Homo sapiens: one gene and its partners. The protein of the gene in region 1 purifies or fractionates together with the protein of each later gene. This does not show direct contact. Each region holds a gene or a part of one and is shown in the gene's direction. Other genes may lie near its edges.

The links.
Region 2: the proteins of ZNF26 (region 1) and MTCL1 purify together in Homo sapiens (affinity purification with mass spectrometry; one large-scale study listed by BioGRID and IntAct). This does not show direct contact.
Region 3: the proteins of ZNF26 (region 1) and MTCL2 purify together in Homo sapiens (affinity purification with mass spectrometry; one large-scale study listed by BioGRID and IntAct). This does not show direct contact.

Annotation. Positions count from the first base shown.
Region 1 is NC_000012.12:132,985,148-132,989,303, forward strand, and holds the start of ZNF26 (zinc finger protein 26), read left to right. Parts: upstream 1-1,219; 5' UTR 1,220-1,693; coding exon 1,694-1,726; intron 1,727-2,517; exon of another isoform or gene 2,518-2,621; intron 2,622-4,156. UniProt on the Homo sapiens protein: May be involved in transcriptional regulation.
Region 2 is NC_000018.10:8,708,482-8,712,129, forward strand, and holds part of MTCL1 (microtubule cross-linking factor 1), read left to right. Parts: intron 1-3,648. UniProt on the Homo sapiens protein: Microtubule-associated factor involved in the late phase of epithelial polarization and microtubule dynamics regulation.
Region 3 is NC_000020.11:36,776,945-36,780,388, reverse strand, and holds the end of MTCL2 (microtubule cross-linking factor 2), read left to right. Parts: 3' UTR 1-2,557; coding exon of another isoform or gene 2,558-2,615; 3' UTR 2,616-2,942; downstream 2,943-3,444. UniProt on the Homo sapiens protein: Microtubule-associated factor that enables integration of the centrosomal and Golgi-associated microtubules on the Golgi membrane, supporting directional migration. Preferentially acts on the perinuclear microtubules accumulated around the Golgi.

The DNA of each region.
Region 1 (4,156 bases):
CTGTTTGCCATTTGTATGTCTTCTTTTGAGAAATGTCTATTCAGATGTTTGGCACTTTTTTTTTTTTTTTTTTTTTGAGACAGGGTTTCACTCCTGTCATCGAGGCTGGAGTGCAATGGTGCAATCTCGGCTCACTGCAACCTCCACCTCACGGGCTCAAGCAATTCTGCTGCCTTAGCCCCCCAAGTAGCTGAGACTACAGATGCATGCCACCACATCCGGCTTACTTTTGATATGTTTTGTAGAGACGAGGTTTCACCATGTTGCCCAGGCTAGTCTCCAACTCCTGGGCTCATGCGATCCACCCACCTCAGCCCTCCAAAATGCTGGGATTACAGACGTGAGCCATCGTGCCTGGCCATTTTGCACATTTTTAAATCTCAAAAGGCCAATCTACAATAGTGGTGTTATCTGTAGGAGTAACTGGGGAAGTTGCGTGTCTTGTGACCAATCCACATCTTAGCAGAATTCAGGCTCCTCTCCTCCCGCTAGCTTGGTGGTCTCTCATAGGTTTTACAAAGGCAGTTGGGTTTTGGAAAAGGGCTATCATTTGAACTATAACCTAAATGTCTTCCAAAGTTAGCTTGGCCTAAGCCCAGGAATAATGAAGGCATCTTGACAGCCAAAGGCGCGCAGAGTTGGGGGTTTGGTTAGATTAGACCTCCCCCACTGCTATAATTTTCTCACTGATATAATTTTTGCAAAGGCAGTTTCATTACTGGTGTGGTTCTATTTATTTGTTTTTCACATCTACTATAGTTTCTCCTTTATGAAGTTGGTTACTGTATTATTTGGTGCACTGATATTCAAAACTGTTATTTAACCCTATGAACTGCAGCTTTTAGCTTTACAAAGCGTCCTTTTTTGCTGTGCCTTCTGGTCTGAACCCTATCTTGTTTGATATCAAAACCTCAGCACGCCTGCGTCTCTGCTGGGGTCGGACTCTGAGTCAGTTCTACAGGCCCTGGGAAACTGGGCGTCCAGGCTCCGAGGATGGTACTGAACCTGGCGCAGCCGTGGGAGGGTGAACCAGGTGCCGCTGGCGGAGCCCCCTCCCAGCCTTCCTTTCCCGTCAGGCTGTGCCCCTCTCTAGATCCGCGGCAGCTGGAAGCCAGGCCTGTAACGAGGGAGCCTTCTCCGAGGATTGTGGGAGATGTAGTTTTTCCGGCGCCTTCGCGTCCTGGCGCATCGACGCAGGACGCACTTCCGCATGCGCCGCACTCCCGGCCTTAGTCGGGTGCGCGCGTGCAGGGCTGTTTCCGGCTTAGACTCAGTGGACCGGAATCTGGCCAGCGGGTGTACCTGGCTGAGTCTCTGTGGCCGCGGAGGCGCGGAGCTAAGCGGCTCGGATTATCCTGGGCAGACCAGAGACTTGACCAGCTAAACACTTCCGTCGGTCCGGGGCGTGGACGGGGCCAGATCAGCCTCCTGCTCTCCCGAGTCAGGGCCACGGAAAGGCACAAATCCATCCGTGCGACTCCTGGTACCCAGACCGGGAGGTTGTCTAGTCACGCGCGGTCTGTGTTGGGCGAGAGCTGAGGAGCCGGCGTCCCTGCCAACGACTCGGCCCCGGGACGGTCAGGAGCCTGGGGCCCTGGTCCCGCACCTGTCTTCGGGCGGACGCATCCCTCACGGTCTCTCCGCAGCCCGCGGGTCCTGCCCCCGCAGGCAGCGCGCGAACGTGGGCGTGGGGATGGCCACCAGTTTCCGGACAGCTTCGTGCTGGGTAAGTAGAGACTTTCCGTGTTTAAAATTCGACTGGATACTGAGGGTGGCCACGTTAATCTCTTCAGGGTTACTCCGGGAACTGAACTCACATTCAGCTGTAATTGTGTGCGTAGTTTACTAGACTACCCTCCCCACCAAACCAAAGCGCCTCTGAAGCTCGCCCAAGCTCTGGCCCTGCAGAAACGTGCCTGTGGTATTCTGTGACGGGCAGTTATACTGCACTTCATGGCCAGCTGCGGGCCCTGAAGTCTGAGGATCCTCCATCATTTCATGTTTTCTACACAAAGTTGTCTTATGGAGACCCTTAGAACTTAGCTGGAGAAATGATCAGTTCCTCCTTTTTCGTTTGGCCAAATGCTTGTTTATGGAGTGTCCTTTTGTCTGCTGGACTCTAAGGCTGGTGCTGGCAATGCAGAGATAAATTATGTATGTTCCTAATTTTAGAGGAGCTTTGGTTTGGTGGAGAGGGTAGTCTAGTGAACTATGGACGCAATTACAGGTGAATGAATAGGGAGAAAAGGCTAGGAGCGGAGCTCGAGAGTCCGAAAGGTAAGGGGCGGGCCAGTGGATCATCGGGACTTTATGAATTATTGATGGAGTGAACCAGAGGGGAGTCTTTACAAGTGATTTGATTGCCAAATCCTTTGCCCTCGGTGAGTGGTGTTGACGACGTTGCCGGATGTGGTGCTCTACCATTGAGCTATACAGCCGGAGACTAGGAATGCTATTGGAAGAGGGACCCTGGGAATGACTTTCGCAGGTGTTGAATATCCAATGCCTGTATTTCAGCCTGTAACTCACATGGGAGGTCTAAACTGGAAATACATAAAGACACCTTATTGTATTCGTGGAAGCTCAGAGTGTGACCAACTGGAACCCTCAAGAGGACCGAGGTGAGGACTCAGGTTAATGAAAGGAAAGGACACACGGTGGAGAAAGGCTGTTGTGCTAAAGAAACGAGAGAAAGTTAGGAGTGGATTTCTCCCCCTGTGAGTTTGTTCCTTTGTCAGAGATCAGTTGACTATATTTATATGGGTCTATTTCTGGGCTCTTTATTGAGTTCTATTGATCTATTTGTTGTTTCACTAATACCACACTGCCACACTGTCTTGATTTTTGTAGCTTTGTAATAAGTCTTTTTTTATTTTTTTGAGACGGAGTCTCGCTCTGTCGCCCAGGCTGGAGTGCAGTGGCGCGATCTCGGCTCACTGCAACCTCTGCCTCCCGGGTTCGAGCGATTCTTGAGCCTCAGCCTCCCGAGTAGCTGGGATTACAGGCACATGCCACCCAGTCCGGGTAATTTTTGTATATTTTGTAGCGATGGAGTTTAGCCATGTTGCCCAGGCTGGTCTTTATAGTAAATCTTTTGTTTTTTTTTCAAGGCAGGATCTCACTCTGTTGCCCAGGTTGGAGTGCAGTGGAACAGTCACAACTCACTGCAGCCTCGAACTCCCGGGCTCAAGGGATCCTCCACCTCAGCCTCCTGAGTAGCTGGGATTACAGGCATATGCCACCACATCAGGCTAATTAAAAATTTTTTTTTTTTTTTGTACAGATAGGGTCTCACTGTGTTGCCCTGGCTGGCCTGCAACTCTTGGCCTCAAGCACTTCTTCCTCCTTGGCCTCCCAAAGCATTGGTGGGATAACAGGTGTGAGCCACCATGCCCAGCCTATAAGTCTTGAAGTCAGGTTCATTCTCCCAAATGTATTCTTCTGCTTCCGTATCCTGTTAGCTAATCTAAGTCTTTTGTCTGTCTGAACTTTATAATCAGTTTGTCAACATCTGCAAAATAACTTGCTGGGATTTTAACTGACAGTGCATTCAATCTGTAGATCAAGTTGGGAAGAGCTGAAGTCTTGAATATTGAGTCTTCCTATCCATGAACATGTTATATCTCTCTATCTAGTTCTTAGTTTTCATTCAGCAGTGTTTGGTAGTTTTTCTCATATAGATTTTATATAGTATCATTATATATTTTGTTAGACTTACACCTAAGTATTTAATTTTTGTGGGTGCTACTGTAAATGGTATTGTGTTTTTTATTTCAAATTCAGCTTACACCTGTGTACAGGAAAGGGGTTGACTTTTGTATATTAACTTTGTATCCTGCAACCTTGGTATAATCATGTAGTTCCAGGAGTCTTTCGGTGAATTTTTTTTTTTTTTTTTTTTTTTTTTTTGAGACAGAGTCTCGCTGTTGGCCAGGCTGGAGTGCAGTGGCACAATCTCGGCTCACTGCAACCTCCACCTCCTGGGTTCAAGCGATTCTCCTGCCTGAGCCTCCTGAGTAGCTGGTACTACAGGCATGTGCCACCACGCCCATCTAATTTTTTTGTATTTTTAGTAGAAATGGAGTTTCACTGTGTTAGCAGGATGGTCTCGATCTCCTGACCTCGTGATCAGCCCACCTCGGCCTCCTAAAGTGCT
Region 2 (3,648 bases), on another chromosome or scaffold:
CACAGACGGAGATGCTGAGAACCTAAAACAGAAATGACTTGGCCAAGGTCATAGAGTGAGTAAGAGGTGGCACCTGCGTTTCCCCAGAGCCTCTGCCCATTTTACTGCACCGGGATGCAGCCCTATTTCCAGCGAGGCTGCTTTCCTCCGAGCACACTGCTTCTGAGTTGTTTTCGTAGCTCAAAATGTTCCTTGTGGTGAGCTTTTCTAGGGGCCCTCTGTTTTCTTTTCAGGTGAGAGGGCCGTCATGCCCGTCTCTCCACTAGCCTGTGTACGAATGGTCACATAAATCCCACTGCCAGTGTTTCAGTTGTGGGGACTGTTCAGTTGCCATTTACTGTGGAGAAGGTGTCACTTGCATCCGTTTACTCTGCCTGAGGCCACCTCCCCACTGTTCCTCCGACAGCAGGGGAGAGAAGAGGGTTGTGAAGGAGGCTAGCAAACCAGATGATTGCGTGTATGCATGTGAGGTACTCATTTGGCCACTCAGAAGCTTAAATGACAATAGTTCAATTCGGGAAGGAAACGCAGGGATCCTAATGGACTTTTCTACAGGTCGTGGAGCCTGCCCACATGTGCAAAATTGGGCCCAGAGCTTCAGGGACCCCCTGTGGCAGAGGCAGTAGTCATGCCTTTGCAGTGGTGGTTAGCGTGTGCCCTTTATAAATCAAAACTTCTCTTTTTGTTATTTTCAGGGGTATTTTTTCCGTTTTTTGTGGTTTTTTTTTGAAGGGATGGTCTTGCTCCGTGGCCCAGGCTGGAGTGCAGTGGCATGATCATAGCTCACTACAACCTTGAACCCGTGGGCTCAAGTGATCTTCCTGCCTCATCCTGATAAGTAGCTGGGACCACAGGAACACACCACCAAGCTGGGCTAATTTTTAAATTTTTTTATAGAGACAGGGTCTGGCTATGTTGTCCAGGCTTGTCTTGAACTCCTGGCTTCAAGTGATCCTCCCTCCTTGCCCTCCCAAAGTGCTAGGATTACAAGTTTGAGCCTCTGTGCCTCGTGGGGTACTTTTTAAAGAGGGTAGATAAAAGTACGTCCTTGACCTGCTGCTTTGTTAGGGAGCACTGCACAGAACTAACTCTCAGGATTAGGTATAGCATTCATCTATTCCAATGTATCTGATAAGAGGCTCGGCCCACAAATTTTACGTTGCTATATTCTGGAGCATTCCAAGTAAGTGCTGTCATCATTGTTGTACAAGACTGTGACAGTTTCTGAACTAGAATGACCAAAGCCCAATTCAATAGAAAAATAAGTCCAGCAAAACCTTAGGAGGATATTCTTCGGATCAGGACATTTAAGTGGAATTATCTTGGCTTTTAGCCAGGCTGCTGTATTTTTTATTTTATTTTTATTTATTTTTTTTGAGACGGAGTCTTGCTTTGTCGTGCAGGCTGGAATGCAGTGGCGTGATCTCGGCTCACTGCACCCTCCGCCTCCCAGATTCAAGCAGTTCTCCTGCCTCAGCCTCCGGAGTAGCTGGGATTACAAGTGCCCGCCACCACGCCCAGCTAGTTTTTGAATTTTTAGTAGAGACAGGGTTTCACCATGTTGGCCAGGCTGGTCTTGAACTCCTGACTTCAGGTGATCTGCCCGCCTCGGCTTCCCAAAGTGCTGGGATTACAGGCATGAGCCACCGCGCCCGGCCTGGCCTGTATTTTTTTAAATAGTCAGTGTCAACAGAGAAGCGGACACCTTGTGTTGTGCTGTAACAGAGCAAATTTGGTCGTCCCTGACTCTGCTTTCTGTTCCTTCTCCACCTTCATCAAATGGTGCCTGGGTGACTAGGTGAAAAATGCAAAATCAATCCAGGTAGCTGGCTTTTGTGTGAAAACACAGACAGAAAAGCACTCTTGTTGTCCTTTGACCTCTGATAAACTCAAATACATTTGGAAGTATTCAGAAATTCAGGTGAGCACTTCAGTTATCCAAAGGCCTGGGCTTCTCATAAAACCCAGGCACTTTCTTTTTTTTTTTTTTTTTTTTTCTCTTTAATTATGGTAAATATTTAATGTTTCCTTATAAAATAATTACAGCCTTAATAGAAACAAAACTGTTGAAAGTGTACCTGGATGACAATAATGGTTAAATATACACTTTAATAATTTAAAGTGATGAGTTTTTTTTTTTCACAAAAGTTTAAGGTGGTAATGAAATCATTGGAATCCCTTTTACCAAAGTGAATTTTAAAAATTACATTTTCCCTCTTGCAATCATGTTTGTAGCATAAAGGAGCAATAAATGGGGGCAGGGAGTAAAGCTTGGGAACTAGTCTATGTTAGGCTTGAGTAGTCTAGGGCAATGTCTGATAAAGGAGGGGTTTGAATTTTGGTATGGAAGGCTTTCTTTTTTTTTTTTTTTTTTTTAATCTGTTTTCTTTTTTCTTTTTTTTTTTACTTTTTTTTTTTTTATTATACTTTAAGTTTTAGGGTACATGTGCACATTGTGCAGGTTAGTTACATATGTATACATGTGCCATGCTGGTGTGCTGCACCCACTAACTCGTCATCTAGCATTAGGTATATCTCCCAATGCTATCCCTCCCCACTCCCCCTACTCCTCGACAGTCCCCAGAGTGTGATATTCCCCTTCCTGTGTCCATGTGATCTCATTGTTCAATTCCCACCTATGAGTGAGAATATGCGGTGTTTGGTTTTTTGTTCTTGTGATAGTTTACTGAGAATGATGATTTCCAGTTTCATCCATGTCCCTACAAAGGACATGAACTCATCATTTTTTATGGCTGCATAGTATTCCATGGTGTATATGTGCCACATTTTCTTAATCCAGTCTATCATTGTTGGACATTTGGGTTGGTTCCAAGTCTTTGCTATTGTGAATAATGCCGCAATAAACATACGTGTGCATGTGTCTTTATAGCAGCATGATTTCTAGTCCTTTGGGTATATACCCAGTAATGGGATGGCTGGGTCAAATGGTATTTCTAGTTCTAGATCCCTGAGGAATCGCCACACTGACTTCCACAATGGTTGAACTAGTTTACAGTCCCACCAACAGTGTAAAAGTGTTCCTATTTCTCCACATCCTCTCCAGCACCTGTTGTTTCCTGACTTTTTAATGATTGCCATTCTAACTGATGTGAGATGATATCTCATAGTGGTTTTGATTTGCATTTCTCTGATGGCCAGTGATGGTGAGCATTTTTTCATGTGTTTTTTGGCTGCATAAATGTCTTCTTTTGAGAAGTGTCTGTTCATGTCCTTCGCCCACTTTTTGATGGGGTTGTTTGTTTTTTTCTTGTAAATTTGTTTGAGTTCATTGTAGATTCTGGATATTAGCCCTTTGTCAGATGAGTAGGTTGCAAAAATTTTCTCCCATGTTGTAGGTTGAACCCAGGCACTTTCTTAATGCTGAGGACTTTGGTAAAGCGCTGGTGTGTTCCTTCCCTGCCAGGCTGCCAAGACTGTGTTTTGCTCGAGTGCTCGGAGACAGTCAGACAAGCCGGAGTGCTCGTTGTCAACATATTAATTATGTTCTCTGTTTCCACAGGCTTTTCAGGAGGATTTAATCAGTTGGCATTTATGAGCCTATTTTGAAAATGCTTTTAGCAGCCATAACCCCACACCTCCCCCACCCCCAAATAGTGTCCTCTTGCCATGCTGACCTCCTGCAGGGTG
Region 3 (3,444 bases), on another chromosome or scaffold:
TGTGTAACTGCCACCTCCAGAACTTTTTCATCATCCTAAACTGAAACTCTGTACCCACTAAACAGTAACTCCCCACTCCCCCTGTCCCCAGTCCCTGGTAACCTCTATTCTACTTTTTTTTTTTCTCTGTGGATTGGCCTATTCTAGGTATCTCTTTTAAGTAGAATCATATAGTATTTGTCCTTTTGTGTCCAGCCCCCTCATTTTTTGAGATGAGGAATCAGGCCCAGAGAAGGCAGTGGCTCACCCAAGGTCACATCGCAAACCAGAGGCAGAGCCAAGACCAGAACCCAGGTTTCCTGACTCCTAACAGGTCTTGCATCCCCAGTAGTGAATGAGACACTGCTTTGACTTTCTGTAATCTTGGTTTAGCCCCTTCCTTTCTCTGGGCTCAGTCTGCTTCCCACCACTCACCCATTCTTTCTTTATCATCTCCCTCCAAAGCCTCTTGTCCTCCTGCCTCCTCTTCTCCTTGGCTGGTTCCTGCCAGCAAATGGAGTGGCCCTGGTCCATGCCAGGTTTTCCTCTTCTGGGTCCGGAGCTCACTATAGTATTCAGCCCTCAGTCCTCCCAGGATGTTCTTCCCAGCACTGCTGCCTCGTGCGGATTTTCCCGTAACCTCAGTAACTGGCTTCTTGTCCCCCTGCTTCCTACCAGGGAAGCCTTCCTGTCCGCGTCTGTGGTTTCCCAACTCTGATATTTGCTCTCAAATGTGGTGGTGTCCTGGTTCTGTGTTTATTTATTTTGTGTTTTCTCACACACACAAAAAAAAGCCTCTTCCTCCAATGCATCAGGAGGCACCAGCCCTGCCAGCCCTTCTCACTGGGCTCACCCTGCCCCAGCAACCCCCCGGTGCCACCCTTAAGCCACACTGTCTTCTCTGTAAGCAGCCTGCCAGCAGCAGCCCCAGCACTTTGCAATGGGCGTGTGTGTGGTGGTGGGTGGGGGGGGCTTGGATCCCTCCTTTTTCCTCCCCTGCCCTGCCCAGGCCCAGATGGCCTTGACTGTAAAGCAGGTGCTGCCTGACAGGTTCTTCTCTCCCTGTCTCTGGTCATTGATCCATCTCTTTGTCCATTCAGTATCCAACCATCCTCTCCATTCTCCTCTGGACCTCACCACTCTCAGAGCTGCTTGTCCTGGCAGAATCTACAGTTCACCCCAACTCTATGCCTTACCCCTCCCAACCCAACAGCATTTGCAGTTTGCAAAATATACAGACCCAAGTCCTGAGGGGACTGAGGACATGATGCTGGGCCCAAGTCTCCTGCTCAGGGCTTCTCTCCAATGCCAGCCCTGCCACTCCTTCCTCACCCTCCTTGGAGCCTCCTCTGCTGCTTGTCTATCCCAACGGCCCTGCTCCCCTCCCTTCCTGCCCTTCACCAGCTTTCTGGACACCATGCCCTGAGGAAGGGACCTTTGGTTTTCTCTAAACATCTTTGAAGGGCTGAGGCAGTCAGGGCTGGCTGCCTTGTCACTCTTTATTTGGAAGCCACTCAAACCATTCCCAAGAAGAGGGACCTCAGCTGGCAATCTGGAAACCTGGCCCAGGTCTGGGCAGATGTCTTCACTTCTCCTACCTTCCCAGTCTTGTGATCCTGTGATGAGCACCAGGATGGCCCTGTGGTCCCTAGAGCACCCCTCATGCTGTAGGGTCCTGCAGCCCCATCCTTTCTCTACTGGGCCCTGGTATCCTGGCTCCTCTCTCAGCTCTGCCACTGATCTCTGTGCCTTAGTTTACTTCTCTGCACGGGGGACTCACCCCAAGACCATTTCCAGCAGCTTCCCAGGTGATGTGGTGCCCCAAGGCTGGGCTTTGCCAGCTGTGGCCCAGCTCCTTAGTGCTGCCCAGGAGACACCAGGCTGCTCAGAATGAGGTGACTGCGGGCACCATTCTCAGCCAGTGGTTCTTGTATTGCATTCCAGCAGCAGGAATATCACCTGGGAACTTGATAGAAGTGCAGATTAGCAGCCCCACCCAAGACCCACTGAATTAGAGCTTGTGGAGTGGGGCCCTACAAGCTGGGGTTTTAAGGAGCCCTCCAAATGATTCTGACGCATAAGAATATGCCAACTGCTGATCTGGGCTAGCCATTAGTAGAGCCTGGGGAGGGACTGGGACTGGCTAGGCCAAGAACAGGTGGAAAACACCAGCCTTATCTGGACTCCTGAGATTGGGAACCACCACCAACAAAAACCAACCCTATAGTCGCTCCTCTTGGAAGAGGAAGAGAAGTTGAAGGGCCTGGAGAAAGCACACATTGTTTGTTTCCCTGCTCCTGCTCACCTCTCTCACTTGTCTTGGTTTTACAAAAGGCTGTGTGGATGGTGCCAGCCAGGGAGGGGGTGGGAGTCCTGGGGAGGCAGGAGGCAGAAGACCCTGACTGTTTCTCCCTTGGGAACCTCACCATAGGCCAGATAGCGCCTCTTCAAACTGAAAGAAATCTTAACTCCACAAAGAAAGCATCCTAAATCCCCAGTTCCTCCTCCTCCCAACCCCAGGGATACCTTGTAGACAGTGCCAAAAAACAGCTCCAACCCCCAGCAGCTGGGAAGAGAGCCAGAAGCTGCCCTTCCTCCTCATCCTGGCCCCTCCCCAGCCCCCGCCAATACTGTGAACCCCCTTCCCACTCAGCCTGGTTTCCTGGTGAGGGTCCTGCAGTCATGGGCCCTGGGGGACCCCCAGGGCAAGGCCCATGGGAGGGAAGGGACCAAGGGCATCCTTGGGCCAACTGTCCACCTCTCTTGTCCACTATTCTCTCCTTTCCACTTCTGTCTTCAAAAGGCTCCTTCCTAGGATGGATCGGGTGCTAGGACAACTGCAGTCCAATCCACCAGCTCTCCCTGCCCCTGTGTCTTATTTCAGACATGAGAATAACTGTACAGTGTAAACTTATAAAGCGTTTTTAATGGTTGTAGATTGGAAATAAAGTATGTCATATGAACAGCTGCTGTGGACTTGGCCTCCTCTCTGATTTTTCTAATGAGGTGGGTGGGGGCCCCAGCGGATCTGAAACCTAACTTTTCCCCACTCCCAGCTGCCTGGGAAGTGGGGAGCCCAGGGAGGCCACAGCCAGCTGGCTGGTTTGGAGTCACTTGGGAGGGGCCACCAGGTGTTCTGGCTGCTGCCTGCTGATACTTCAGCGTCTCCCACACAGTGTGATATGACCACTGAGAAACAAATGCAGTCTTCAAAAAGAAGAAAAATAGAATTGAACTTTTCTACAAAAGACTTTAACAATTTTATGAAAAAAAAAAAGACACTTTTAGGTGTGTGTCAATTGTCTATTGAAGCGTAATTAATTATTCCGAAACATTTATTATACCCCACAGATGCTATGGGTCAGGAATTTGGGAGCTGGGCAGTTCTGATTCAAGGTCTCAGGAGGTTGCAGTCAGTTGTCAGTCAGGCTACAGTCATTTGAATGCCTGATGAGCTGGAAGACC